5 separate regions of the Homo sapiens genome follow, and regions 1, 2, 4 and 5 are each linked to region 3. The links come from fine-mapping of genetic effects on gene expression. A gene starts in region 3. Each other region holds a variant in brackets. All regions are shown on one strand. Distances are between the middles of the regions.

Region 1 (6,301 bases), 220 kb after region 3:
CAGTTCAAGTTGCCATAAGATTGTTCTTCTAATCGTTGGCAAGTGAGGAGAAAGCTAATGATGAATCTATTTAGCCAGATTTCAAGAAGATGTGATAATGCTGGCACTGGCTATTGTTATAATTGTACATCTATGTTTAAAGCATCATCCAAGGAATTAAATGGATCTGGAGAAAAATACATCATTTTTTCTTTTTCTCCTTTTTAAAATCTTTTGTTAGATTTCTGGTTCCAAAATGGCAGTGTAGAAGCAAGCTGGCTTTACTCCTCCTTACGGAAAATCAGAAACAAACATAAAGCACTGAGATTATCACAAGCAATATCCCAGAACTCAAATATGAGGAGGAGACAGTTCCTGGGACCACAGACATGAAGATACTCTGAGAAGATGGTAAGAGAATCAGGCACCCCTTCTCACAATCTGCCTGTCATCAAGCATGCAGAAAATCCTTTCTGCTACTCACTGTTTCTATATTGGAAAAAGTGAGAACAAGGTGGATAACCAGTATCCCCACCACCGTGAGTTCCCTGGCAGGATATCTGTCCCTGCCTCAACTTATAGGAAGCATTCCGAGTACTTGAAGGGAGAAATATCCCTGAGGATAGCCAGAGGAAAAGGGGAAGGCAGAAATACCACCTCCAGCCCTGGAAATTCTGCTCTGTCAATCCACCAAAGGAGATTCCAAATCAGAGTGGCTGTTTAGCAGCACCACACAGTAGAAGGTTCATTTCACAGGGCCCCTAGGCACAAATCTTGAGCCACCCTTCCCCTTTGGAACCTCCCCCATTCAAGACAGGCACCACTCCTTTACCAGAGCCAAGGTCAGCCTGGGCTTTAGGCATCATTTACTGCTGAAAGGAGGTAACAACCTAGTGGGAAAAATAAAAGAAATAAAATCAATAGGTAAATTACAAAGAATCTCTAAGAAAACATATTCTATCATAACCAAAACAAGCCAGACATAGAAGACTGGAATAAACAACGAGTCCGTCGATGCAAGACAAAGATGTACATCTACAAGAAACAATAGCAAACAGGGACAACAACCTCCTCAAATGGACAAAGCAAGGGAACAGGGACTGACATTACTGAGATGGTGATATGTGAGTTCTCTGACCAGAAATTCAAAATAGCAGTTTAAAGGAAATTCAGGGATCTTCAAAATAACACAAAAAAGATATTCAAAATGTTTTGTTATTGTTGCTGGGGCTTATCATTTTTGTTACTGATACAAAATATTTTACATATTTATGGGGTATGTATGAGTATTTGCTACATGAATAGAATGTGTAATGATCAAGTCAGGATATTGGGGTATTCTACATGTTGGTGACATTTCAAGTTCTCTCTTCTAGCCACTTTGAAATATATAACACAATGTTGCTCACCATAGTCACCCTACTCTGCTATTGAATATTGGGACTTGCTTCTTCTATCTAACTGTACGTTTCTGCCCATTAATCAACCTCTCTTTATCTCTCTGACTCTCACCCACATACCTTTCTCAGCCTGTGGTATCTGTCATTCTATTCTCTATCACTATGAGATCAACTTTTTAAGCTCTCACATGTGAGTGAGAACTTGCAGTATCTGCCTTTCTGTGCCTGGGTTATCTTACTTAACATAATCACCTCCAGATCCATCCATATTGCTACAAAAGACATGATTTCATTCTTTTTATGGCTGAATAGTATTCCATTATGTATGTATACCACATTTTCTTTATCCATTAATTTTTTTTACAAATTATAAGGTATTATGTATCAATGATAATGAAAATTTATAAAATTTAAATAATACAAATAATCTTACTGAGAGAGAATATCATTAGCTACATTTTACCCGTATGAAAACTAATTAAGTAACTTACTTTAAAGTTGTATAGCTAGTTTTTGGCAGAAAAGACAAGAATTTTAGTTTCCTGAGTCCACATCTGATTTTCTTTCCATGGTACTAAATTGCCTATCTTGCAAAGTTAGGGGCATGTCCGCCTATGATTCCAAGCCCCTAAATAGTCCATTCATCTGTTGTTGGACACCTAGATTGATTCCACATCTTGGCTACTGTGAACAGTGCAGCAATAAACATGGGAATGCAGATGTCTCTTTGACGTAATAATTTCTTTTTCTTTGGATATATACCCAGTAGTGGGATGAATGAATCATATGGTAGTTTCATTTTTAGGTTTTTGAGGAACCTCCATACTGTTTTTCATTGTGGTTGTGCTAATTCACTTCCCCACAACAGTGTATAAGAGTTCCTTCTCCACAACCTCACCAGCATCTGTTATTTTTAGTATTTTTAATAGTGCTATTCTAACTGGGGTAGGATAATATCTCATTGTGGTTTCGATTTGCATTTCTCTGATGATTAGTGATGTGGAACATTTTTTTCATATACCTGTTGGCCATTTGTATGTATTATTTTGAGAAATGTCTATTCATATCATTAGCCCACTTTTTAATGGGATTTCTTTTTAAATGGAGGAGTTGTTTGAATTTCTTGTATATGCTGGATATTAATCCCTTTTCAGATGAATAGTTTGCAAATATTTTTCTCTCATTCTGTAAGTTGTATCTTCACTCTGTTGATAGTTTCTTTTGCTGTGCAGAAGCTTTTTAGTTTAATATAATCCTATTTGCCTATTTGTTGTGGTTGTCTGTGCTTTTGAGGTCTTAGCCATGAAATCTTTGCCTAGACTGATGTTTTGTTTTTTCTCTTTATTTTTTTTTCTAGCAGTTTTATTGTTTCAGGTCTTACATTTAAGTCTTTAATCCATCTTCAGATGATTTTTGTGTATGGGGAGACATAGGTGTTCAGTCTATTCTTATGCATATCGTGAATTTCAAATTTTCCCAAAACTATTTATTGAAGAATTTCCTTTCCCCAGTGTATGTTCTTGGCACCTTTATTGAAAATCAGTTGGCTATAAATAAGTGAATTTAATTCTGGTGTCATTATTCCGTTTCACTGGTCTATGTGTCTGTTTTTATATCCTTAACAATCCTGTTATTATAGCTTTCTAATA[C/T]ATTTTGAAGTGAGATAGATGATGCCTTCAGCTGTGGTCTTTTTGCTCAGAATGGTTTTGGCTATTCTGGCTCTTTTTCTTTCTTTCTTTCTTTTTTTTTTTTTTTTTTTTTTAGTATTTATTGATCGTTCTTGGGTGTTTCTCGGAGAGGGGGATTTGGCAGGGTCATAGGACAACAGTGGAGGGAAGCTCAGCAGATAAACATGTGAACAAAGGTCTCTGGTTTTCCTAGGCAGAGGGCCCTGCCGCCTTCCACAGTGTTTGTGTCCCTGGGTACTTGAGATTAGGGAGTGGTGATGACTCTTAACGAGTATGCTGCCTTCAAGCGTCTGTTTAACAAAGCACATCTTGCACTGCCCTTAATCCATTTAACCCTTAGTGGACACAGCACATGTTTCAGAGAGCATGGGGTTGGGGGTAAGGTTATAGATTAACAGCATCCCAAGGCAGAAGAATTTTTCTTAGTACAGAACAAAATGGAGTCTCCTATGTCTACTTCTTTCTACACAGACACAGTAACAATCTAATCTCTCTTTCTTTTCCCCACATTTCCCCCCTTTCTATTCGACAAAACCACCATTGTCATCATGTTCTCAATGAGCTATTGGGTACACCTCCCAGATGGGGTGGCGGCCGGGCAGAGGGGCTCCTCACTTCCCAGATGGGGCAGCCGGGCAGAGGCAACCCCTCACCTCCCAGAGGGGGTGGCTGGCTGGGCGGGGGCTGCCCCCCACTTCCCGGACAGGGCGGCTGGCCGGGCGGGGGCTGCCCCCCACCTCCCAGATGGGGCAGCTGCTGGGCAGAGATGCTCCTCATTTCCCAGATGGGGCGGCTGCTGGGCAGAGGGGCTCCTCACTTCCCAGATGGGGTGGCTGGTCAGAGACGCTCCTCACCTCCCAGACGGGGTGGTGGCAGGGCAGAGACACTCCTCAGTTCCCAGACAGGGTCACGGCCGGGCAGAGGCACTCTTCACATCTCAGATGGGGCGGCAGGCCAGAGGTGCTCCCCACATCCCAGACGATGGGCGGCCGGGCAGAGACGCTCCTCACTTCCTAGATGGGATGACGGCCGGGAAGAGGCACTCCTCACTTCCCAGACTGGGCAGCCGGGCGGAGGGGTTCCTCACATCCCAGACGATGAGCGGCCAGGCAGAGACGCTCCTCACTTCCTAGATGGGGTGGCGGCCGGGCAGAGGCTGCAATCTCGGCACTTTGGGAGGCCAAGGCAGGCGGCTGGGAGGTGGAGGTTGTAGCGAGCCGAGATCACACCACTGCACTCCAGCCTGGGCAACATTGAGCACTGAGTGAGCGAGACTCCGTCTGCAATCCCAGCACCTCGGGAGGCCAAGGCTGTCAGATCACTTGCAGTCAGGAGCTGGAGACCAGCCTGGCCAGCACAGCAAAACCCTGTCTCCACCAAAAAAAAGAAAACCAGTCAGGTGTGGCGGTGTGCCCCTGCAATCCCAGGCACTTGGCAGGCTGAGGCAAGAGAATCAGGCAGGGAGGTTGCAGTGAGTCGAGATGGCAGCAGTACAGTCCAGCCTCGGCTGGGCATCAGAGGGAGACCGTGCAAAGGGTAGGGGGAGGGGGAGGGGGAGGGAGAGGGAGAGGGAGAGGGAGAGGGACTATTCTGGCCCTTTTTTGGTTCCATATGAATGAATTTTTTTTTTCTGATTCTGTGAAAAATGACATTTATATTTTTGATAGAGGTGGCATTGAACATGTAGATTACTTTCAGCACTATGGTCATTTTAATGATATTCTTCTAATTCCTGAACATGGGATGTCTTCCAATTTGTTTGTATCTTCCTAAGTTTCTTTACTTAGTGTTTCATAGATTTCCTTGTAGAGATCTTTCATCTCCTTGGTTAAATTTATTCCTAAGTATTTTATTTTTTGTAGTTATTGTAAATAGGATTGCTTTCTTAGTTTCTTTCTCAATAAGTTCATTATTGGTGTATAGAAGCACTACTGATTATTCTTTATTGATTTTGTATCCTACAACTTTAATGAACTTATTTATCAAATCTAGCAGTTTTTTTGTTGGAGTCTTAAGATTTTTCTAGATAAGATCATATCGTCAGCAAAACAGGACAATTTGAATTCCTCTTTTCTAATTTAGATGCCCTTTATTTCTTTCTCTTGCCTGATTGCTCTGGCTAGAACTTGTAGTGATATGTTGAGTAGGAATGGTGAAAGCAGACATCCTTGTCTTGTTCCAGATCTCAGAGGAAAGCTTTCAGTTCTTCCCCATTCAATATGATGTTAGCTGTGGGTTTGCCATATATGACCTTTATCATTTTGGGTATGCTTTTTCTATTCCTAGTGTGTTGAGAATTTTTATTGTGATGGGATGTTGAATTTTATCAGAGGCCTTTTCTGTATATATCGAGGTGATCATACGGCTTTTGTCCTTTATTCTATTGATGAGATAAATTATGTTTATTGATTTGTATGTTGAACCATACTTGCATCCCTGCTGTAAATCCTACTTCGTAATAGTATACTATTTTGGTAATGTGCTGTTAGATTGGTTTGCTAGTATTTTCTTGAGGGTTTTTATGTGTATGTTCATCAGGGATATTGACCTATAGTTATATTTTTTGCTGTGTCCTTTTCTGGTTTTCATATTAGAGTAACACTATTCTTATACAGTAAGTTATGGAAAGTTCCCTCTTCTTCAATTTTTTGGAATAGTTTAATGAGGATTGGTATTAATTCTTCTTTATAAGTGTGGTAGAATTTAGCTGAGATTCCATCCAGTTCTGAGCTTTTCTTTCTTCCTTTCTTTACTTTTCTTTCTTTCTTTCTTTCTCTCTTTCTTTCTTTCTTTCTTTCTTTCTTTCTTTCTTTCTCTCTTTACTTTTCTTTCTTTTCTTTCTTTCTTTCTTTCTTTCTTTCTTTCTTTCTTTCTTTCTTTCTTTCTTTCTTTCTTTCTTTCTTTCTTTTTCTTTCTTTCTTTCTTTCCTTCTTTCTTTCTTTTCCCTTCCCTTCCCTTCCTTTCCTTCCTTTCTTTCTCTCTTTCTTTCTTGACAGAGTCTTGCTCTGTCACTAGGCTGGAATGCAGTGGTGTGATCTTGGCTCCCTGCAACCTCCACCTCTTGGGTTCAAGCAATTCTCCTGCCTCAGCCTCCCAAGTAGCTGGGACTACAGGCGAGCGCCACCACGCCCAGCTAATTTTGTATTTTTAGTAGAGATGGGGTTTCACCATGTTGGCCACGATGGTCTTGATCTCTTGACCTCATAATCTGCCCACCTTGACCTCCCAAAGTGC
Region 2 (6,114 bases), 410 kb before region 3:
TTTAGCATTTACATTTGGAAGCCTAATTAGCTTTCTAATTAGGAGATGGGAGAATGTAGGGGGGGATTCCTGCGAGAGGCTAGTGGGGAAAAAGCTGAATCCAACTCCCCATGGACTGGTGTTTGGTGTGCCATTGAATTTGCCTAGTAAACCCTCATGGGTTTATTTTTAGCTGGACCACTGTTAAATGGTAAGCCTGGAAAAACCTTCAGAGAAGCCTCCTTCTGTGTTAGGAAAAAATGTGGATTGGATATTTGGTTTGAGGTGTGTGCTTTTTTTCTAACTACATTTAAAATAAAGACAGGTTTATATGAAATCTGAATTCCCCAGTAATAACTACAGATAGGTTATAGAGCCCTTTATATTCTTGGTTTAACCCTAGGTTTTTAGTTGAAAAGGTTTAATTTGGGGCAAGCAGTGGTACCATTTCAAATACTTTTATCAGCAAATGTTGGTTTCTTTAAAGAACCGTAATTCATTACACATCCACGATTTCTGAGCTTCAAATTCTAACATTGATAGCATGTGATTAGACAGCTTGAAGCCCTCAGACTTACAGTTTTGTTTTATTTTCTTTTCGTTTTTAGAGACTGGGTCTCGCCATGTTGCCCAGGCATGTCTCAAACTCCTGGGCTCAAGGGATCTTCCTGCCTCAGCCTCCTGAGGAGCTGGGACTACAGGTGCATGACAGACTTATCATACATTTTTAAAAAAACAAAAGCAAAGATTTTTGTCTTAGTAGGTTAATGTTTTTGTCACATATATAGTTTCATTTTGAGAAACTTAAAAATTAAAATATAACATTAAATCCAACTTCATTCTTTGAATCTGATCACTGTATTTCTCTAGGGATTAAAGAGTTTTAATTCATTGGTTGATTTTCTTTCACTTGTTGAAAGGACAAACTGTTCATAAAATTTGTTTCATTTTGTATTTTGTCATTTCCTATTGTCATTCTAGAAAAAGGTCTCTAGAATTGAAGTTTTAATTTTCAGGAGAAGAAGAAAATATTCAAATTGCTTATGAAGATAATAGTCTACAACTTGAATTAACCACATCATAGTTCTTAAATTACTTTCTCTCAAGAACTTCAAGGTTAGCTTAGCCATTATTATACAGCATCCTGAGGAATATTAATCAGTTTTACAGATGGACAAGTTGTGTTCAAAAGCCAAGTGATAGGTCGGTGCCGTGGCTCAGGCCTGTAATCCCAATACTTTGGGAGGCTGAAGCAGAAGGACTGCTTGAGCCCAGGAGTTCGAGACCAGCCTGGGCAACATGGTGAGACCTTGTCTCTATAAAAATTTTTTAAAAATTAGCTGGGTGTGGTGGTGCATGCCTGTAGTCCCAGCTACTGGGGAGACTGAGGGAGGAGGATTGCTTGAGCCTGGGAGGTTCAAGGCTGCAGTGAGCTGTGATTATGCCACTGCATTCCATCCTGGGAGACACAGAAAGACTCTGAATCCAAAAAAAAAAAAAAAAAAAGTGATTTCAGCTAACCACTTGGAAAATCGAGACAAAAATCTAAATTGTCTGACATGAGCATTATGAATATGAGCATTAGCCAAGACTTAAGAGAAATTCAGGGCATGGATAGCGGGAAGAATTTAAGATTAGAGAGCAAAATAAAACTGTTAAGGGGAAAAAACTGTAAGGAGAAAGCAGATTAATAGAAAGAAAGTAAAAGCGAAAACATCAAGTGAAAAGAGGGTTGCACAGAAGGAAAACGAAGTTGCAGAATAGGAAACTAAGAAGAACTCCACTCTTCATCTTCCACAGAGAACACTGATGGTTTTCCAGAAAGCAGTCAGTACCCTATTTAGCAAAATCGTGTGACTTGGGAGGCCTTAGCGGCAGATCTTAGTTCATTCTGACTCCCTGCCACCCATCCAAGTGGTGTGGGCTGAGGCAGCTGTCTTTTCGGGTCTCCTGAACTAGCTGCTCATTAGATCTTTTCTCCCTAATCCTAAAGCCATCAAGAAGCTTTCTGTGTCTCTATTTGTTGGAATTATCTAGTTGGGATAATATATGGATACACTTGATTACATAATTGCACTGAAATTTTTCTTTTTACTTTAAAAAATTGTTCAAATTGTTATCATCACAATGCATTCACCTAATTTTATGAGAGTATATTAAAAGCTTATAACTGGCTGGGCGCGGTGGCTTACGCCTGTAATCCCAGCACTTTGGGAGGCCGAGGTGGGTGGATCATGAGGTCAGGAGATCGAGACCATCCTGGCTAACACAGTGAAACCCTGTCTCTACTAAATATACAAAAAAAAAAAAATTAGCCAGGTGTGGTGGTGGGCGCCTGTAGTCCCAGCTACTCGGGAGGCTGAGGCAGGAGAATGGCTTGAGCCTGAGAGATGGAGCTTGTAGTGAGCCGAGATCGCGCCACTGCACTCCAGCCTGGGCGACAGAGCGAGACTCTGTCTCAAAAATAAATAAATAAATAAATAAAAAATAAAAGCTTATAACTAAAACAACAGTCCCAGTCTCCAGAGGCAATCATTTTGAACTCTTGGCTGTTTGATCACTTACCTCCCTATGTCCAAATAATTAGCTTATGTTGCTGTTTTTTCTTTTTTTCTTGAGACAGGTTCTCACACTGTTGCCCAGGGTAGAGTACAGTGGTGTGATCATGGCTCACTGCAGCCTTAAATTCCTGAGTTCAAGCAATCCTTCCCCCTCAACCTCTTGAGTAGCTGGGGCTATAGGTGCACGCTACCATGCCCATGCCCAG[C/CTT]TTTTTTTTTTTTTTTTTTTTTTTGGTAAAGACAAGGTTTCACTATGTTGCCCAGCCTGGTCTCAAACTCCTGGGCTCAAGCAATCCTCTCACTTTGGCCTCCCAAAGTGCTGGGATTACAAGCATGAGCCACCATGCCTGGCCACTGGTTCTTGATTTATCAATTTTGGACAGAATCTATTGACTTATTTATTTTTATGTTTTATTTAGAGGCAGGATCTCACTCACCTAGACTACAGTGCAGTGGTACAATCATAGCTCACTGCAGCCTAGAACTTCTGGGCACAAGTGATCCTCTCATTTCAGACTCCAGAGTAGCTGGGACTACAGGCATGCACCATCATGTCCAGCTAAGTTTTTTATTTTTGTAGAGTTGTCGGTGGTAGGGGGGGCGGGCCTCTCTATGTTGCCCAGGCTGGTCTTGAACTCCTGGCCTCAAGCCATCCTTCTGCCTTGGCCTCCCAAAGTGCTGGGATTACAGGCGTGAGCCACCACGCCTGGCCAAATTAGTTCTATTCTTGGCTAATAAAATACACCTTAGTCATTTTTAATCATGAAGATTTTTAAAGAGCCTTTTAAACTTTTTGGAAATTTGAAATGTAGCCAAATACTCCCTCAGATGTAATCAACAGCGCCAGCCCTTGAGCTCCTACAGAACACAGAGGTACTGATTTTTCCACCCTTTATACTGCCTCAATTTCCATGATCCATACTCCATACCCCCTCTCCCATTTTACCATTTCCCTGACCTACATTTCTCTATCTTTCAGTACTTGCTGAATCACACCTGGAAATTCCTTCAGGCCTTATCTCCTTCCAGATGTTCTCTTTTGGGCCCCACCCTGTCTGTACCTATCTCTAGTTTAGCCTTTGGCCATTATATTTAGACGATCTGTTTATGCATCTACCTTGCCCCACTAGCTGTAGATTTAGTTATATCTACATTGTTCCTGGGGGTAACTTGTACACTTAAACATGGAGGACGGAGCTTAAAAATAATGTTTGTTGAACTGAACACGTCATCTTGATATTGAAGGAGTATTCCATAGTAGAGTAAGAGGGGTAGCAACCTCACATTGCTTAGAGTAGGGGTGAGGGCAAGGAAGTAGGGGGAAAACATAATCTATTTCTTTTCTTTTCTTTTTTCCGATGGAGGAGTCTTGCTCTGCACCCGCACCTGGCCAATATGATTTCTTTCTTTCTTTCTTTCTTTCTTTCTTTCTTTCTTTCTTTCTTTCTTTCTTTCTTTCTTTCTTTCTTTCTTTCTCTTTCTTTCTTTCTTTCTTTCTTTCTTTCTTTCTTTCTTTTCTTTCTTTCCTTTCTTTCTTTCTCTCTTTCTCTCCTTTCTTCCTTCCTTCCTTACTTCCTTCCTCCCTTCCTTCCTTTCTGTCTTTCTGTCTTTCTTTCTTTCTGTCTTGCTCTCTCTCTCTCCCCCTTCCTCCCTCCCTCCCTCTCGAGCTCGCTCTCTTTCTTTCTTTCCTACTTTCCTTCCTTCCTTCTTTCTTTCCTTCTTTCTATAGTGAAAACTGTCTTTATTTTTATTGCCTTTTATTTTCAACAATGATTACTTGAACTTAAAAAAAAAAGAGCGGACTTTATTAAGTAATGATTACTGAAAAGCCAAACCTTTCCAGCCCACTTCATATTGTCTTTTAACCATTTCAGAACACGATCTATTTCTTATCCTCCTACTTTCTAGCAGCATCTGTTTAGAGGGGATTGCCTGTGGCACACACAGCTCCTGCTCATGAGACAAGGTGAAGAAGCCTCATCTGTTTTGTGTGAAGCACAGACCCTGAGGTCAGACAGTCTTGGGCTTGAAATTAAACTTGGATGTTAATTGCCTGTATGGCTTTGGACAAGTTACCAAGTCCTTCTGAAGTTTAGTTTCTTCATCTGAAAAATGAGGATAATAGCAGGCACCTTTTAGGGCTGTTGTAAAGATTTTTAAAAATATGTATAAAGGGCCAAGCACGGTGGCTCACACCTGTAATCCCAGCACTTTAGGAGGCCAAGGTGGGTGGATCACCTGAGGTCAGGAGTTCGAGACCAGCCTGACCAATATGGAAAAACCCCATCTCTACTAAAAATACAAAATTAGCTGGGCATGGTGGCACGTGCCTGTAATTCCAGCTACTTGGGAAGCTAAGGCAGGAGAATAGCTTGAACCCGGGAGGCAGAGGTTGCAGTGAGCTGAGATTGTGCCATTGTACTCCAGCCTGGGCAACAAGAGTGAAGCTCTGTCTCCAAAAAAAAAAAAAAAATATATATATATATATATATATATATATATATATGAAAAATGTATATATCTATAAATGAAATGCCATCTCTACTAAAATATATATATATATGTATAAAGTAGTTGAAATGAAATAATGACTAGTCTTCTAAGTTAGGTACGCTTTGGCCTGCAGTTAACTAAAGAATCTTCCTGCTTAGCTAGAAGTTTATTTTTCTTGCAGAAGAAGAGGTCTAGATAAGCAATTAAGAGCTTTGTTTTAGCTGCCATCAGAGACCTAGTTTATTCCTATCTTTCTGTTCTGCTATCCATCCTTTTGCCCTCATATTTATCACTTCATGGTCTCTAGGTGGCTACTACTCCTCTGTAAGTTCCACAGGGGAAGGAAATGAAAGGAGCTGCTCCAGCTGCAACTATCCTCTTTCAACAGGAAAGCACTAATTATCAGAAACACCACACTAAGGTCTTACTGGCCAAAACTGTGTCTCAGAGCTATCCCTATCTTTGAGGGAGAAAGGGAAACTGGGATCGCCAGCTACTATAACAGAAGGCAAAGAAAGGAGAAGAGAGTTAGTAGTGACGTTGAGTGAGCCAGGCTGCAGTGATGTCTGCCACACTATCACTTATTGATAGGGTGGCCATATGTCCCAGTTCGTCAGTGCAACCCCGGTTTACACCTGTTGTCCTAGTGTGATTGTTATTATTATTTTTTGAGACAGAGTTTTGTTCTTGCCCAGGCTGGAGTGCAATGGTGTGATCTCGGCTCACTGCAACCTCTGCCTCCCGGGTTCAAGTGATTCTCCTGCTTCGGCCTCCTGAGTAGCTGGGATTACAGGCATGTGCCATCACGCATGCTCAGCTAATTTTGTATTCTTAGCAGAGACGGGGTTTCTTGGCCAGGCTGGTCTCGAACTCCTGACCTCAGGTAATCTGCCCACCTCGGCCTCCCAAAGTGCTGGGATTACAGGCCTGAGCCACTGCACCCGGCCGTCCTAGTGCAATTATTAATAGCACCCCATTCTCAGAGGTGTCTTGGTTTGAATGACAGATTCTATGTTCACCCTTCTTATTGAGCACTTGCTATTTATTGTAGGCTCTCATTAAGTAGTAGTTATTTTATTTTATT
Region 3 (5,000 bases):
GGTTTCAGGTTTCAGGCACCTGCCACCATGCCCAGCTAATTTTTGTATTTTTAGTAGAGATGGGGTTTCACCCTATTGGCCAGGCTGGTCTCGAACTCCTGACCTCAGGCAATCCGCCTGCCTTGGCCACAAAGTGCTGGGATTACAGGCATGAGCCACCGCGCCCGGCCAATTTTTTATATTGATTTAAAAACCCATAGGTTTTTGTAATTGGTACTTACATGAATATGCAAAGGACAATATTCACAGTAGTATGCCATGAGCTAGTTTTTTAAATGCTCACAGAAATTTCAAATGCAAACTGGTTTTACTTATGTAGCTTAAACAAATGCCAATTGTTGAACTTTGTGCTGGCTCTTTAATATCAGTTCTCTTTTTTCTTCCAGTTAATGTTGATTAGCATCAGCTCATTTAGTCAGTTAACATTTATTTCCTAAAATCAAACACTCTTGATTGGTCAGCCTGGGAGAAGAGGGCTAAGATTAAGGTTAGTGATGGTTCCCTTAAAACCTGTCGAGTGTCTGCATTGTTAGACACACTGAAATCTAAGAATCCCATCTCTCTGGGGCTGTTCACTTTACTAATAATTATTTATAAAAGGGAAGCTGAGACAATAAATTGCCAATAACCATGTAACATAATAACCACAATGAAAAGACATTAAAGCTACCTTTTCTGTAGCCTGATTTTACCTAGATGGTGGGTTTTGGTAACAAGCCATCACTAGAGGTCAGTTTTTGATTACATGTCTTCTCAGGTTCAGCCTATGTTTTGATTTTTGGCTACTGGGCACCTCTCTGGTTTTTAGGCTTTAAAGCAGATCCAAATGTTATATTATAGTCTTGTAAATGTTTCATCCTTTTTGCTTCTGATAGATTAGAACTCTAATTATTAAAAACTATTTTTAAGCATTTGTGACTACAAAAACTCCTAAACTTCAAATGGTTTAAATTTTGATGTTTATTTTAATTTTAAAATATTTTAAAAATTATTCAATAATAGAACAATCTGTAATGAAAACTTACACATATGTGAGAGGTACTATTTTAAGATGAGAGTTTGCAGGTCAAATTAGTCAGGGAGGAAAGAGTAGAAGTCAGAGTGGGAAAGGCCCTTAAAACTTAATAGGGAATATCAAATCTCTACAAAAATTTTATTCAAGACAGTGTCTAAGACTTAGAAGCAACTAACTTAAAAGCAAACTTTTGGAACTTAATCCTATTTTCATTGGGGACTCCGTTTATGAATAATATGCTGTAATTATACGTAGAAGCTTAAGGACTGAAACAGAGCATTCCAAATGACAAATGTTTTCTCCTGAAGAAATGGCACCCAAATTATGTTGTACAAGTAAGCGGAATAAAATAATCATATGCTTGTTATTAAAATTATCATATGCCTAACATTCATGATTTTCAAAAGTGAAAAACAGTATGTTATCTTTGAGTTTGTTTTCATGTGATATAAATTTATAAGCAAGTCAAAATTAAATAATGTACTGAGCATTAATTTAAGCCAGGATTTTTCAGCCTCAGCACTATTGACATTTGGGGCTGGATAATGCTTCGTCGTGAGGGGCTGTGTAGTGTGAGGTGTTCAGTAATATCCCTGGCCCCAACCCATTAGATAGGTCCCCTCTCCAATTGTGACAACCAAAATGTCTCTAGACATTGCCAAATATCCCTCGGAACTAAATTGTCCCCAGTTGGGAACCACGAATTATTAATCCCTAAAAGACAAAGCAGCAACTCCTGACCCCTACAAAAAGTTTTAAATCAATAACTTAGTTTAAAATCCTTACTAAGTGGGATCATTACTAATCTCACTTCATTGTACCTTCAGTATCTGGAAACCGTCCCTATGGTCACACTTACCACGGCTCATTATTATTTTAAAACATGGGGCTGTGTCATTTCCTGTCTGTGAGTTTGGACTGCAGTGGGAATCCATTAGTTGAATGACCTTCTGTGTAGGTTAATCACAAGACAAGTTCTCAAACTAAGGGTTTCCCTGCGGCTCATTTCTTTTTAAAGTTATGGAATACCTGTTCTGCTTATACCTTTTAGATTCATAATTATTTTTCTTGTATCAAAATTTCAATTAATAGAAATAAATGACGTTACTGACACTTCATGATGATTAAGTTTTGGGCAAGTGAACCATTTTACACTCTATTTTTTATTCCTCCCACTTTTAGTCAGAATACACCTGCAGAATAAGTAACAGAACTGTGTGAAAAGAACGACTAGGTCATTACGGTTAATAGTTTTAGAAAAACAGCCGAGGCCTGGTCTGGAAAGCTCACAACCTCCACCCAGATGCTTTCCAGCCTCGGGGATATTCGTACTAGCAGTGACACTAGCCAGCTTCCTCTAGGCTGGCTCTGATGTTGGAAGACAAGCACGCAGATGTGTGTTACTTTTCAAGCCTGGACATCGTTTCTGAGGAATTTAACTCCACCTCTCCTGCCAGAATGGAAAATCAACGCCCCCCATTCCCGCCCTTCACCAACCCCTCTCCGCCTGCCCCTTTCCCTTGGGTCCTCTCTGTTACAGAAGTTCTGATTTTTCCTAGCGAGCTGGAGGAAAGGCAGGTACCCGGAGTGGAGTTATATTACCTGTTTCTTTGTTCTGATGGGACCCCAGAGAGGACATCACGCTTTGTAACTGGTTCTTCAAGGGGAGAAGCAAATGTGTCCCTGAAAACTTCAGCTGCCGCGTTTGGCACCAGGTTTGATTGACAAGGACTGGCGGAGGGAAAGCGCGGAGGCTGGGCTGGGGGCCGCAGGCCGAGGCAGAGACAAAGAGGTTTCGCCTGTCCCCGAGAGTGGAAGGGCCCCTGGGGGTAACTAGCCTTTGAGCTCAAAGGGGCATTTCGTGAGGTCGCCTTTTGGTTCGGAGAGCGCGCGGCGATCGGGTGGAGGGGGCCTGGCGGGAAGAAAGCTGGGGCGGGGAAGGGGCGCGGGCCGAGGTGGGAGCGGAGCTGCAGTCACGTGGCCGCCCGCCGCCGCGGAGTTGGGGCTGTTCTTCCGGGTTGGAGGCGCAGCGCCGCGGGGCCCAAGCCCGGGTCTGCCAGCGCGACGTCCTCTCGCGGCCCTCAGGGCACAGCCCAAGGCTGTCAGCCTCCCGGCCCAGGTGAGCGCGACGGCACTGGCGGGTGCGGGCAGCCGGGGCGCGCGCCTAGGGCGCAGCTGGGAAAGGGGCTCGGGCCTTTCCTGAAGACCACGGCCCTCGCCGGGAGAGAGACCTGTCAAAGAGCAAAGCGGGGCGGGGTCGGCGGTGTCCCGGGCGCAGGGTGCATTGGGGTGTCCGCAGGCCGCAGGCTTAGGTGGGGAAGAAGCACCGTGCCTCTTGGTGTCCCTTTCTCGTCTCCTGCTGGGGCGATGTCGAAGGGAGTGGGCTGGTGGATTTGGGAACTGGGTCCCCGAAGAGGGCAGGGAATGAGGCGGCAGCTGTGCAGGTGCAGATATTTGCAGCTTTGGGGGACAGCGAGAGTCGTACGGGGTCATTTCGGCCCTCAAGATCGGGGGTGGTGGAGAGGGAGGTCATAGAGGACTTTCGATGGGCGGTTCATCCAGAGAGGTGGCAGCTGGATGCCCTTGAGGTATGCTTGACCCTTGAGGGAGTTCGGAGAGGGTGTCCGGCTGGGGACATAGGAGATTGCGAGCACAAATTGTGAGTGTGAGTTGGGGCGGTCTGGCGGTGGTGGGTACAAGTTTCTGGGGCCTAGGCTGGTGAGGAGGAAGAGACAGCGGAGAGGGCGACCTGGGCAGAGCTAGTTCAAACTCAACAGCCGGAATGACTATTTGCAGCCGTGGCCAATCGGCTTCCTAGGGAGGTTATAAATAGCGGTCTCGTGCAGATGCCAGCGGGTGGCAGTTAGTTGCCGAGCAAGGGACGGCACCGGTGGCAGTAGCCGTGACACCAGTGGCTTTGGGTGAGGTCACGGCGCCTGCCAGCCGAAGCTGGCTCAGTAGGGTATTGTGTCCTTGCTGGTATGTCTCGCTTTTAAAAGCGTGACTTGTTTATGGTTGCCGGTGTCCTTTATTCACCCTGTGGCGCCGGCCAGTCCTTAGGTGGTCTGTTTGTCAGGAGTCTTGTAGGACAGACTTATTCGGAGAAGCGCGTGGGGCTTAGGTGCCTACCTACTCTTCTTATTTAAAGTGTGCCCCTTTTCTTCATTGCACCCCTTTTATTTGTAAACCTTGACTTTTTATTAACAGACAGTTTAGGATTGCCTTCTTTCCAGCAGGTGCGCTTAGGCTGCTTACCTTGGTGATAGAATCAGTTTTCCACAAGGCTACACAAACATTTCCTTTTCAAAGGAAATTTTCCGAAAATCCTTGGAAAATGTGCTCAATAGGTACTTAGGCTTAAGGTCACCTAGCCCTATTCATTCAGTCAAAAATACTGACTTCCTCTGTGTTGTGCAAAGCACTGGGGGAGAGTAATACCAAAGTGAATATAACAGCTGATAAGGATATTCTCAGTCCTGGCAACAACCCTGAGAGGTAGGTGCTGTTATTTTATTTTTTCAAGTCTCGCTCTGTTGTCCAAGCTGGAGTACAGTGGCACAATCACGGCTTACTGCAGCCTGGAACTCCTGGGCTCAAGTGATTCTCCCACCTCAGACTCCCAAGTAGCTGGGACTTCAGGCTTGCACCACCATGCCCTGCTAATTAATTTTTTTTTTTTAGCAATGGGGGTCTCACTGTGTTGGCCAGGCTAGTCTTGAATTCTTGGCCTCAAGCAGTCCTCCCCACTAGCCTCCCAAAGAGATGGCATTATAGGCGTGAGCCACCACCCTGGGTGGGTGCTATTATTCCCCATTTTAAAGATGAGGAAATTAAGTACAGGGAAGTTAAGTGACTTCCCAAGGTCACACAGCCAATAAGTTGCAGAGTGGGGCTTCCAATCCGCAGATCCAGAGCTGACTCTCTTAAATATCTGTGGTATCCTCCCTCTTTAGGTTGGGTGCTTTCCCTCAAGGATTTTAATATC
Region 4 (6,301 bases), 140 kb before region 3:
CTCCTAGCTGGTCTCGAACTCCTGGCCTCAAGTGATCCTTGGCTTCCCAAAGTGCTGAGATTACAGGCATGAGCCATCATGCCCAGCCTGGTCAATTAATTTTTGATAAAGGTGCAAAGATAAATCAATGGAGGAAGAATATTCTTTTCAACAAATGGTGTGAGAACAAATGGATATCCATATGCAAAAATCATAAACCTGAATCTATATCTTACTCCATATACAAAAATTATCTCAAAATGAATCACAAACCTAAATGTAAATAAAACATAAAAAGATAAAATTTCTGGAAAAAAACATAAAGTATTTTTGTGTCCTTGGGTCACGCAAAGAGTTATTAGATAAAATACCAAAAGCTTGATCCATTAAAAAATTGGTAAGTTGAACTTATCAAAATTAAAAGCTTCTGATCTTTGAAAGACAATGTTAAGAGAAAGAAAAAACAATTTTTAAATCTTATATCTGATAAAGGACTTACATCCAGAATATATAAAGAACTCTCAAAACAGAGTAATAGGAAAACAAACCAATACAAAAATGGACAAAAGATGTGAAAATGGGTACCTACCATTGATGATATTCAGATAGCCAATAAGTATAAGAAATATGTTCATCACCATTAATTATTAGGGAAATGCAAATTTTAAAAATTAGATATCACACACCTGTTAAATGGCTAAAATTAAAGACTGACAATCCCAGATGTTGACAAAGATGTGGAGCAACCAGAACTCATACGCTGCTGGTCGGAATAAAAAACAGTATGACTATTTTGGAAAAACAGTTTTCCAATTTCTCAGAAAGTTAAACGTACTCTTACCATATAACCCAGTCATTCCACTTCTAGGTATTTTCCCAAAAGCTTATGTGTACACAAAGGCTTACACATGAATGTTCATAGCAGCTTTATCTGAATTTGTTCCAAGTTGGAAACAACTCAAATGTCCACAAACATGTGAATAAACAAAAGGTGGAATAAAAAGGAACAAACATGTGATACACATAAAAACATGAATGAATCTTGAAATGATTATAGTAAGTGAAAGAAGTCAAACAAACAAAAATTACACAGTTAAAACCCATAGAACTGTGCGACATAAAGGATGAACCCTAATATAAAGTATGGACTTTAGTCAAAAATAACATATCAATATTGGTTCCCTACTTGTATCAAATATACCACACTATTGCAAATATTAATAATGGGGAAAATGTATGCAGGGCAAAGGGCATCTATAAGAATTCTCTATAATATTGGCTCAATTTTTCTGTAAACCTAAAACTACTATTTAGGTTTATGTATTAGTCTGTTATTGCATGGAACTACCTGAAACTGGGTAATTTACAATGAAAAGAAGCTTAATTGGCTTACAGTTCTGCAGGCTGTACAGGAAGCATGGCTGAGGAAACCTCAGGAAACTTACAATCATGGTGGAAGGTAAAGAGGAAGGAGTCACGTTTTACATGGCCAGAGTAGAAGACTAAAGTGGAAGGTGCTACACACTTTAAACAGCCAGATCTCGTGAGAACGAACTCACTATCATGAGAACACCTAGGGGGATATCTGCCCCCATGAACCAGTCACCTCCCACCAGGCTCCTCCTCCAACACTGGGGATTACAATTTGACATGAGATTTGGGTGAGGACACAAATCCAAACCATATCAGTTTATAAAGTCTATTAATTAGAAAAACTTACAAAAACTTAAAAATAAAGTCAATTTATTTTAAAAAATTAAATAAATGAACCGCCAACAAATATTATAAATTTAAGTAATAGATGTACTGTAGTTCATTATATTTTTCTCTATTTTTCTGTATGTTTGAAATTTTCATTTAGAAATGTTTTTATTAAATTTATTTATTTTGAGGACAGGGTCTCACTGTGTTGCCCACACTGGAGTGCAGTGGCTTGATCTTGGCTCACTGCAACCTTGACTTCCTAGTCTCAGGTGATCCTCCCACCTCACCTCCTGAGTAGCTGGGACTACAGGCATGAGCCATCATGCCTGGCTATATGTTTCCATTTCTATTTATTTAATTTAAAAAATTCTTTCTTTCCTTAATTTTTGAGACAGGGTCTTGCTCTGTTGTCCAGGCTGGAGTGCAGTGGTGTGAATATGGCTCACTGCAGCCTCTATGTCCTGGGCTCATGAGATCCCCCTGCCTCAGCCTCCTGAGTAGCTGGAATCACAGTCACAGGCCACCATGCCTGGCTAATTTTTAAATTTTTTTGTAGAGATGGAATTTCACCATGTTGCCCAGGCTGGTCTGCAGCTCCTGGCCTCAAGCAATCTTCCCACCTCAGCCTCCCAAAGTGCTGGGATTACAGGCGTGAGCCACTGAACCTGGCCTAGAAATATGTTTTTAAAAAGAGTGCATAGTATAATTCTACTTATTTAAAAGTCTACAAAATACAAACTAATTTATAGTGACAGAAAGCAGATCCATGGTTTCCTGAAGACAGTAGAGGCAGGAATGATTAAAAAGGAGAATAAAGAAACTTTGGTAAGGGACGCATATGTTCATTATCTTGACTGTGGTGATAGTTCCATGGTTCACAGTTTCATACATATGTCAAAACGTATCAAACTGTATATTTTAAACATATACAGTTAATTACATGTCAATTATACTCCAACAAAGATGTTAAAAAGTTAGGAAGGTACACTTCATTGATTATAAAACAGCAGGCTTTTGTAAAAAAGGAGAAATATGAAAACAAGAAACTATGGAAATGAAAAAGTTGATTACCCAAATAAAAACTCAATGCAAAGTCTACTATGCACTGAAGGAATGCACAGTGGCGTGAATCTTTCAAACATCAAAATTAGTAAATGAGAACATTTGCAAATAATTTTTCCAAAGCTTAAGGGGAAAATATAAGACAAAGAGTTGGGCATTGAAAAAAAATTTCCAAAAATAAAGAGAAAACCTTTAGAGTTTCTATGTCAAAAAAAAAAAATTATCTTCCAAAGAAAGAGAATGTGATTATCATCAACCCTAAATGTCAGAATACTGTGAGGTAACATTTACAGAACTCTGAGAGAAAAAGATCATAGACTGTAGCATTCTAAGCATAGTTAAATTATGGCACCTATGTGGCAACTGTGAATTTTAAAAGTTTTGCCTTAGAAATTATACACCCATGTATGATTTT[G/T]GGGGGTAGGGGAAACTGAGCAGTAGAACTTCTCAATCTCTAGCAGGAAGGGAGACAAATAAAGAAAATTTGATCAATACAGCAAGACAGAAAAGAAAAAAAAGAAAACCTTACTTCCCTCCAGCTCACCCCCACTCTGCAAAAAGCAATAGGGACCAAATAAAATACAAATACCACAACAAATGTGAATGTGTTAAATTTCTCTATAAAGAGACAAACATAATCAGATTGGGGCAAAAGAAAACATCACTAAATTATTGTTCAAAACAAAACACCTCAAACAAAAAGTCTTCACAATATAGAAAATAAAGAGATGAGAAAATATATGTCTAAGAAATACAAACAAAATTAAGTAGCAATGGTAATATTAACTGCAAACACAGAATTCAAGGTAAAAATGATTAATTAGAACTGAAAAGGATAAAATATTCACATCACAGTAAAGTTCTATGGGGTAAGAGGATGCTTACATGTCAAACAACAGCAGCAAAAAATTAAGTGGTCAATAAAAGGCATAATCTGAATAATATAATTTATAAATTTTATTTCATACTCAGGTATACAACTTCATATGCTATGAAGCAGTGGTCCCAGTCCTTTTTGGCACCAGGGACTGGTTTTGTGGAAGACAATTTTTCCATGGACTGTGGAGGGGGATGGTTTTGCGATGATTCAAGTGCATTACATTTATTGTGTACTTTATTTCTATTATTATTACATTGTAATATATAATTAAATAATTACACAACTCAACATAATGTAGAATCAGTGGGAGCCCTTAGCTTGTTTTCCTGCATCTAGAGAGTTCCATCTTAGGATGGTGGGAGACAGTGACAGATCATCAGGCATTAGATTCTCATAAGAAGCACGTGACCTAGAACTCGCATGTGCAGTTCACAATAGGTTCACTCTCCAATGAGAAGCTAACGCTGCCACTGATCTGAAAGGAGGTGGAGCTCAGGCAGTAATGTCAGTGATGGAGAGTGGCTGTAAACACAGATGAAGCTTCACTTGCTAGCCTGCCGTTCACCTCCTGCTTTGCGGCCTGGATCCTAATGGGCCATGAACCTGTACTGGTCCATGGCCTGGGGGTGGGGACTCCTGCTATAAACAGTACACATTCTTTTCAAATGTTCACGGAACCCCCATAAAAGTTAACCACATATTTGAATTAGGGAGGCAGAGCAAAATAGCAGAATAGAAGCCTCCACCAATCATCCCCAAACACAAGTTAACAACTATCTACACAGAAAAAAAATACCTTCATAAGAACCAAAAATCAGGTGAGACTCATAGTACCTGGTTTTAACTTCACACCACTGAAAGAGGCACAGAAGGGATTAAAAAAAAAACAAAACACAGAAAAGCAAAAAACAGTCCTGAATCACTAAGGCCACCCCTCCCCTACACCCCAGAAGTGGCAGAGTGGGGCAGAGAGCATCTCTGGGCACTGAGGGAGGGAGAACACAGCAGTTTTGAGGCACTGAACTCAGTGCTGTCCTGTTAGAGCAGAAAGGAAAACCAGACTAAACTCAGTTGATGTCCAGCCACGGAGGGAGCATTTAAATTAGCCCAAGCCAGAGGGGAAATGCCCATTCCATTGGTCCGAATTTGAGTTTCTGCAAACCTCGCCACTGAGGGCTACAGTGCCCTCTGTCTCCAGGTAAACTTGAAAGGCAGTGTAGGCCTTAAGGACTGCAACCCTTAGGTGAGTCCTAGAGCTGAACTAGGCCCAGAGACAGTGGACTGCGTGGGCACATGACATACTGAGACCAAAGTTGGGGCAGCCAAAGGTATGCTGGCATCACCCTCACCTAACCCCATGCTGCACATCTTGAGGCTCCAAAAGAGACCCCTTCTTTTTGCTTGAGGAGAATAACAGCTCAACCACAGCAAGACAGGACACTGGTCAGAGTCATGAGGGCCCCATTCCAGGCCCTAGTTCCCAGATGTCATTTCTAGACATACTCAGAGCCAGAAGGGAAACCCCTGCCTTGAAGGACAGGACTCAAAAACTGGCAGCATTCATCACCTGCTAACTGAAGAGCCCTTGGGACCTGAACAACCAGCAGTGATACACAGGTACTACATCAAGGGCCTTGCGTGAGCCTCTGAGACTTGCTGGCTTCAGGTGAGACTCAGCACATTATCAGCTGTGGTGGCTATGGGAAAAAACTCCCTCTGTTTGACAAAAGCAGAGAGAAAACTAAAGGGGACTTTGCCTTTCACCTTAGGTATCAGCACAGGCATAGGAGGATAGAGCACCAAGTGAGCTCTTGGGGTCCCTGATTCCAGGATATGACTCTTGGATGGCATTTCTGGACCTGCCCTGGGCCACAGAGGAGCCCACTGCCCTAAAGGGTGGGTCTCAGGCCAGGCAGCATCCACCACAAACTGACTTAAGAGACCTTGTGCCTTAAGGGGCATTAGCAGTGTTCTGGCAGTACTCTTTGTGACCTGGGGTGGTGGTGGCTATGGAGTCAGGCTCCTCTGTCTTTGAAAAGGGGAGGGAAAAGTGGGAAGGACTGCATCTTGTGGTTTGAGTGCCAGCTCAGCTGCAGTGCAATAGAACATCAGGTAGACGTCTAAGGTTTTTGACTCTAGTCCCTGACTCCCAGATGGTACCTCTAGACCCACCCAGGGCCTGGGGGACCTCACTGCCCTGAAAGGAAGGACATAGGCCTGGCTGGCTTTGCTACTGGCTGATTGTAGAGTCCCAGGGCCTACAGCAAACATAGGCAGTAGCCAGGAAGTGAATATAGCAGGCATTGTGTGAGACCAAGTGCCATGCTGGGTTCAGGTCTGACCCAGCACAGTCATGGTAGTTGTGGCCACAGGGGTGCTTGGGTTACTTCACCCTAGCTTTAGGTGGCTCAGAACACAGAAACAGACTGTTTGAGGGAAAGTAAAGGAAGAGAACAAGAGTCCTAGCCTGGTAATCCAGAGAATTCTCCCATATCTTGTCCATGACCATCAAGGCGGTACCTCTATGAGTCTGCAAGAACCACAGCATTACTGGGCTTGGAGTGCCCTCTAAAGCAGATATAGTTTAGATTATAACACCAAAGTCCTTTCAAATATCTGGAAAACCTTCCCAAGAAGGACGGGTACAAATAAGCCCCGACAATGAAGCCTACAATA
Region 5 (6,301 bases), 23 kb before region 3:
CTGCAGTGAGCTGTGATTGTGTGACTGCATTCCAGCCTGGACAACAGATTAAGACCCAGTCTGATATGGTTTGGATATTTGTCCCCACCCAAATCTCATGTTGAAATGTAATAACTGGTGGGAGGTATTTGGATCATGGGGGCAGGTCCCTCATGAATGGCTAGGGCTGTCCCCTTGGTGCCAAGTGAGTTTTTGCAAGATCTGGTCATTTTAAAGTATGTGGCACCTCCCCCCATACTCTCTTTCTCTTATTCCTGCTTTTGCTGTGAGATGTGCCTCCTCCCCCTTTTCCTTTCACCATGATTGTAAGCTTCCTAAGGACTCTCCAGAAGCAAATGCTGGCACTATGCCTCTTGTACAGCCTGCAGCACTGTGAACCAACTAAACCTCTTATAAATTACCCAGTCTCAGGAATTTCTTTATAGTAACTCAAGAATGGCCTAATACACTGTCTCAAAAAACAAAAACAAAAACAAAACGAAACAAAAAATACAGAAAACCCTACCAAAAACAAAAACAAACACCTAAATGTCAGAAAGTCATATTTTGGAGACCAATCTAGTCATATAGGTGGCTTCTAATTTAGTATCTGTTTTCTACTTAGACCACTGAGTTCTGGGCAGAGCCCATTAAGGAACAGGGCAAACAAAGCATTTGCAGTTTTTAGGGCCTAATATTTGTATATGTAAAAAGTAGGCACAGCTGGAAGACAGAGCATCTAGATTTTTAAAAATCAAGGATTCTACTTTTACACTGAACCCTGGGTCCCCCACAAAAGAGGGAAACACCAAAGGACTGGGCTGCACAGTGTTTCCAGAGTACACCTCACTACAAAGATGTCACCCTGAGGCTGGTGGGGGTGTGTGAGGCATTAGTGAGAGTGACAGATTGTGTGTCAGGTATTAGTGGGTGGGAGACCCATATCAATCAGCCCATTCTGTGATCAGCCCATCCACCATGGGATAGTTATTCCTTGGTGGTGAGTATTCCCACAGTCTCCATGTATTCAACTATGTCTTTTTTATAGAATAGAGCAAAGCAACAAGTAGCCTACATACAGTAATAACTATTAATTGCAACCACTGTCAGCTACCTCCAAAACTGCAGCCCTCACCAGTGACCCACCAGCCATTGCATACACAAGGTCAAATTCTCTAATAGGTCAAAGTAATTCCTTGAACCCCCAAAGCCAAAGAGACCAGGTAATGCAATGCAAAGGAGAGTGGAGCTTTAGACCTGATAAGAACTTGCCCATGACTCTTCAGACTCCACAGGAAGACAGAAGATCATTCCCATAAAGTGGGTGAGTGGTAGCTTTTCTATGTTTCTTTTTATTTATTTATTATTTTATTTATTTATTTATTTATTTATTTTTATTGATTATTCTTGGGTGTTTCTCGCAGAGGGGGATTTGGCAGGGTCATAGGACAATAGTGGAGGGAAGGTCAGCAGATAAACAAGTGAACAAAGGTCTCTGGTTTTCCTAGGCAGAGGACCCTGCGGCCTTCCGCAGTGTTTGTGTCCCTGGGTACTTGAGATTAGGGAGTGGTGATGACTCTTAACGAGCATGCTGCCTTCAAGCATCTGTTTAACAAAGCACATCTTGCACCGCCCTTAATCCATTTAACCCTGAGTGGACACAGCACATGATTCAGAGAGCACAGGGTTGGGGGTAAGGTCACAGATCAACAGGATAAGAATTTTTCTTAGTACAGAACAAAATGAAAAGTCTCCCATGTCTACCTCTTTCTACGCAGACACAGCAACCATCCGATTTCTCAATCTTTTCCTCACCTTTCCCCCCTTTCTATTCCACAAAACCGCCATTGTCATCATGGCCCGTTCTCAATGAGCTGTTGGGTACACCTCCCAGACGGGGTGGTGGCCGGGCAGAGGGGCTCCTCACTTCCCAGTAGGGGCGGCTGGGCAGAGGCGCCCCTCACCTCCCGGACGGGGCGGCTGGCCGGGCGGGGGGCTGACCCCCCCACCTCCCTCCCGGACGGGGCAGCTGGCCTGGCGGGGGCTGACCCCCACCTCCCTCCCGGACGGGGTGGCTGCTGGGCGGAGACGCTCCTCACTTCCCAGACGGGGTGACTGCCGGGCGGAGGGGCTCCTCACTTCTCAGACGGGCGGTTGCCAGGCGGAGGGTCTCCTCACTTCTCAGACGGGGCGGCCGGGCAGAGACGCTCCTCACCTCCCAGACAGGGTCGCGGCCGGGTAGAGGCGCTCCTCACATCCCAGGCGGGGCGGCGGGGCAGAGGCTCTCCCCACATCTCAGACAATGGGCGGCCGGGCAGAGACGCTCCTCACTTCCTAGATGGGATGGCGACCGGGAAGAGGCGCTCGTCACTTCCTAGATGGGATGGCGGCCGGGCAGAGATGCTCCTCACTTTCCAGACTGGGCAGCCAGGCAGAGGGGCTCCTCACGTCCCAGGCGATGGGCGGCCAGGCAGAGACGCTCCTCACTTCCCAGACGGGGTGGCGGCCGGGCAGAGGCTGCAATCTCGGCACTTTGGGAGGCCAAGGCAGGCGGCTGGGAGGTGGAGGTTGTAGCGAGCCGAGATCACGCCACT[G/A]CACTCCAGCCTGGGCACCATTGAGCACTGAGTGAACCAGACTCCGTCTGCAATCCCGGCACCCCGGGAGGCCGAGGCTGGCGGATCACTCGTGGCTAGGAGCTGGAGACCAGCCCGGCCAACACAGCGAAACCCCGTCTCCACCAAAAAAATACGAAAACCAGTGAGGCGTGGCGTCGCGCGCCTGCAATTGCAGGCACTGGGCAGGCTGAGGCAGGAGAATCAGGCAGGGAGGTTGCAGTGAGCCGAGATGGCAGCAGTACAGTCCAGCTTCGGCTCGGGAGAGGGGGAGGGGGAGGGGGAGGGGGAGGGAGAGGGTTTTCTATGTTTCTTACAGGGTCTTTAGATGTTCCCACAGATCCTTTTATGTGATATTCAAGACAGCAAAGAGAAAGGAGGAACAAAAAGCCAATGAAGTTTTACGCTTTTCTTAACAAAAATCATACCACAAGAAATGAAGCATACAAAAAGACCAAATATACAATTAAAAGAAGTTTCAGTAAACTAGAAAAATCCTCAGAAATAGGATCCCAAAGAAAAAAGGCAGAAAGGCCTTTAAATATATATATTTATATAAATATATTTTTGCATATTTATATACATATATTTATATAAATATATTTTTGCATATTTATATACACATATATTTATATATTGTAATAATACATTTATATATTATAATATATAATATAAAAATATTTTATCTATTATATATTTTATAATATTTATATATTATATGTTATATATAATATATAACATAATATTATACATTTATATAATATATAAATAAAATATAATATATAAATATATAACAATATATTTATAATATAATATAATATAAATTAAATATAAATTAAATATATTTCTATAAATATATAGGTATATATTTATATAAATATATAACTATATTAAATATATACCTATATATTTAATATAGTTATAATATAATATAATATAAATATATGTATATTATATATTTATGTATATAACGATATATTCAACATATATGTTGAATATTAGCTTCTAATTAAGCTGACTTCTGATCATAGAGCTTTTTAAAAATATATTTTCAGATCTTTTATTATTGGATTTTGGCTAGGACAAATAGCTAATATTCCTGACTTTTAAACTTTTTTATGAAAGGTAACTTTGCAAGTGACTCAACAATTTAACTAAGGACACATGAGGTGTCTCCAAAGAGGTAAAAAGCAGTCCTCACAAGATGCAGATGCACTGAAAGACAGTTCAAAGAAAATAAAGTTTCAGTAGCCGCAAACGGGATTCAACCCACATCTGTCCAGCCATATTCTCTAGTGTCTCAACTTCTCAGCTGACTGTCTACACACAAAGGCCCAAAAGCCTCATACGCCCCCACAGATGGAAGGAGGCAGAAAATCAAAAGCTGTCCATGAAACAGAAAATGATCAACAACAAATGGGTACCCCAAAAAGCCAAAAGTCACACAAATATCAGACCAAAAGGTACTGGTTCCCTGACTGGTAATCAAACCCAGACCACAGTAGTGAAAGCACAGAATTTTAATTACTGGACTGAAAGGTGGAGCAGCTTTATTGTGAATCCTACAGACAGTTTGAGCACATATGTTATTGTGGGGAAAAGAAAGAGAGATCAGATTGTTACTGTGTCTGTGTAGAAAGAAGTAGACATAGGAGACTCCATTTTGTTCTGTACTAAGACAAATTCTTTTGCCTTGAGATGCTGTTAATCTATAACCTTACCCCCAACCCCGTGCTCTCTGAAACATGTGATGTGTCAACTTACGGTTAAATGGATTAAGGGCGGTGCAAGATGTGCTTTGTTAAACAGATGCTTGAAGGCAGCATGCTCATTAAGAGTCTTCACCACTCCCTAATCTCAAGTACCCAGGGACCTCTGCCTAGGAAAGCCAGGTATTGTCCAAGGTTTCTCCCCATGTGATAGTCTGAAATATGGCCTCCTGGGAAGGGAAAGACCTGACCATCCCCCAGCCCAACACCCGTAAAGGGTCTGTGCTGAGGAGGATTAGTATAAGAGGAAGGCATGCCTCTTTGCAGTTGAGACAAGAGGAAGCCATCTGTCTCCTGCCCGTCCCTGGGCAATGGAATGTCTCGGTATAAAACCCGATTGTATGTTCCATCTACTGAGATGGGGGAAAACTGCCTTAGGGCTGGAGGTGGGACATGCGGGCAACAATACTGCTTTGTAAGGCATTGAGATGTTTATGTGTATGCATATCTAAAGCACAGCACTTAATTCGTTACCTTGTCTATGATGCAGAGACCTTTGTTCACGTGTTTATCTGCTGACCTTCTCTCCACTATTATCCTATGACCCTGCCACATCCCCCTCTCTGAGAAACACCCAAAAATGATGAATAAATACTAAGAGAACTCAGAGGCTGGCGGGATCCTCCATATGCTGAACGCTGGTTTCCTGGGTCCCCTTATTTTCTTTCTCTATACTTCGTCTCTGTGTCTTTTTCTTTTCCAAGTCTCTCGTTCCACCTAACGAGAAACACCCACAGGTGTGGAGGGGCAACCCACCCCTTCAGTTATGATTTTCACTTTGTGTTAGGTCAGATTTTTGCTGTTTAATTTTGTCAAGAGAATTTCTAAGGTTAGCCATGATACTATTATATGTCTTTATTTTAATTTGGTCTGTCTATAAACACAAAGAAGGCAATTGTTTAGAACCAAGCAACAAGAGTTGAGATGACAAAAGCCCACAGTGATGGGACTTTTAAGACAAACTCCCCTGAGAGCTTGACACATTCATAACAAAAAGTGTGCTGCTTAAAATCTTACATGTCTCACGTCCCAGCCATTTTCAGACTGGTCACCTTATATGACCTGAAAATCATGCCTCATAGATAGTGGAGACCAAGAGAGAGTGCTCCCACTTTGTCACCAGCCACACTTTCAAGGATATAAAACAAGATGAAAGGGGAATCTCATATGGTTTTTATTTTGGGGGCCCACAACAAAGTTTATATGCTGTTCTGGTCAGAACTACAATTCTGACAAGTCCGCAAGGCTGGCTGGAAAAATGGGCTTATAAAGGCTTTAGGCCTATGTTCTACCTCATGCTTGGTACCCTTCTTTATGACATAACAACACGGAAAGACAAAGAAAGAAAAAGTTGATTTCTGGGACAAAAAGGATCAAATAATATGAATACTTAAACCAAAAATTACACCAGAGTCACAACACCCAAGACTACTCACACAAATCCTTGTCTCCCATTAATCAAGATTTTGCAGAGAAAAGAGACAAACAGGGATTTTAACTGTCAACTTGATCAGATTCCACAGAAAGAGAGGCCAGAAGCTTGGCCGGTAAGAAATTCTTGTTCTTCTGGCAGCTAGTCAGGTCCTGGGTTCCCTTCACTCTGGCTTAAGAGCAGAATAGTTTTGGTATACTGCTCACAGCACCAAAACTATAGGAGCCAAGCAAAAACTTCCCCTTTGCCCTCTGAAGGTCCACTGAAAAATCAACTGATAAAAGGCAGCTTAATAGGAGAAATGGCACAGAAATTTATTAACATACCCACAAAGGAGAACCACAGAGTAATTATTCCTCATGTCATTTCTTCTTTTAATCTGCTTTTTTTGTCAGTTGACTTTTCAACAAAACTTCAGAGGGCAAAGGGGAAGTTTTTCCTTGGGCTCTATGATAGGAATTGATTCATTCGCTTGTTCATTCAACAAATATTGATTTGTGTCTACTTCA

Alleles and levels. Positions count from the first base shown, and alleles are read on the strand shown. Sizes are in standard deviations (SD) of each study's normalised expression. Not every link is listed here.
With allele C in place of CTT in region 2, the expression in NK cells of the gene that starts at base 3,020 in region 3 is lower (small effect, 0.37 SD a copy in Gilchrist 2021).
For the expression in left ventricle of the gene that starts at base 3,020 in region 3, allele A in region 5 goes with a higher level than allele G (small effect, 0.36 SD a copy in GTEx).

Evidence for each region. PIP is the estimated chance that this variant, and not a neighbour inherited with it, causes the effect. A credible set is the group of variants that fine-mapping cannot tell apart.
Region 1: its variant is the best candidate, but not a certain one, in a credible set for the expression of NNT in whole blood (TOPMed, PIP 0.61).
Region 2: its variant is the best candidate, but not a certain one, in a credible set for the expression of NNT in NK cells (Gilchrist 2021, PIP 0.84).
Region 4: its variant is the best candidate, but not a certain one, in a credible set for the expression of NNT in whole blood (TOPMed, PIP 0.85).
Region 5: its variant is the best candidate, but not a certain one, in a credible set for the expression of NNT in left ventricle (GTEx, PIP 0.61).

What each region holds. Positions count from the first base shown.
Region 1 is chr5:43,820,757-43,827,057 of GRCh38, forward strand. No RefSeq gene overlaps it. Among named protein-coding and RNA genes, the nearest start is that of NNT-AS1, 220 kb to the left of the region's middle. The variant C/T (reference allele first, on the strand shown) is at 3,029.
Region 2 is chr5:43,194,196-43,200,309 of GRCh38, forward strand. The region is part of intron 1 of NIM1K (NIM1 serine/threonine protein kinase); the gene reads left to right. Among named protein-coding and RNA genes, the nearest start is that of NIM1K, 5.0 kb to the left of the region's middle. The variant C/CTT (reference allele first, on the strand shown) is at 2,747.
Region 3 is chr5:43,600,161-43,605,160 of GRCh38, forward strand. NNT (nicotinamide nucleotide transhydrogenase) reads left to right here and starts at 3,020. Exons shown (of 22, transcript NM_182977.3): 1 at 3,020-3,134. NNT-AS1 (NNT antisense RNA 1) reads right to left here and starts at 3,070. Exons shown (of 3, transcript NR_073113.1): 1 at 2,618-3,070. RefSeq lists an enhancer at 1,044-1,213, a cis regulatory region at 1,129 and silencers at 2,368-2,587, 2,851-2,940, 3,061-3,280.
Region 4 is chr5:43,456,048-43,462,348 of GRCh38, forward strand. The region is part of intron 1 of TMEM267 (transmembrane protein 267); the gene reads right to left. Among named protein-coding and RNA genes, the nearest start is that of TMEM267, 25 kb to the right of the region's middle. The variant G/T (reference allele first, on the strand shown) is at 3,161.
Region 5 is chr5:43,576,267-43,582,567 of GRCh38, forward strand. The region is part of intron 2 of NNT-AS1 (NNT antisense RNA 1); the gene reads right to left. Among named protein-coding and RNA genes, the nearest start is that of PAIP1, 22 kb to the left of the region's middle. RefSeq lists an enhancer at 4,226-4,972. The variant G/A (reference allele first, on the strand shown) is at 2,574.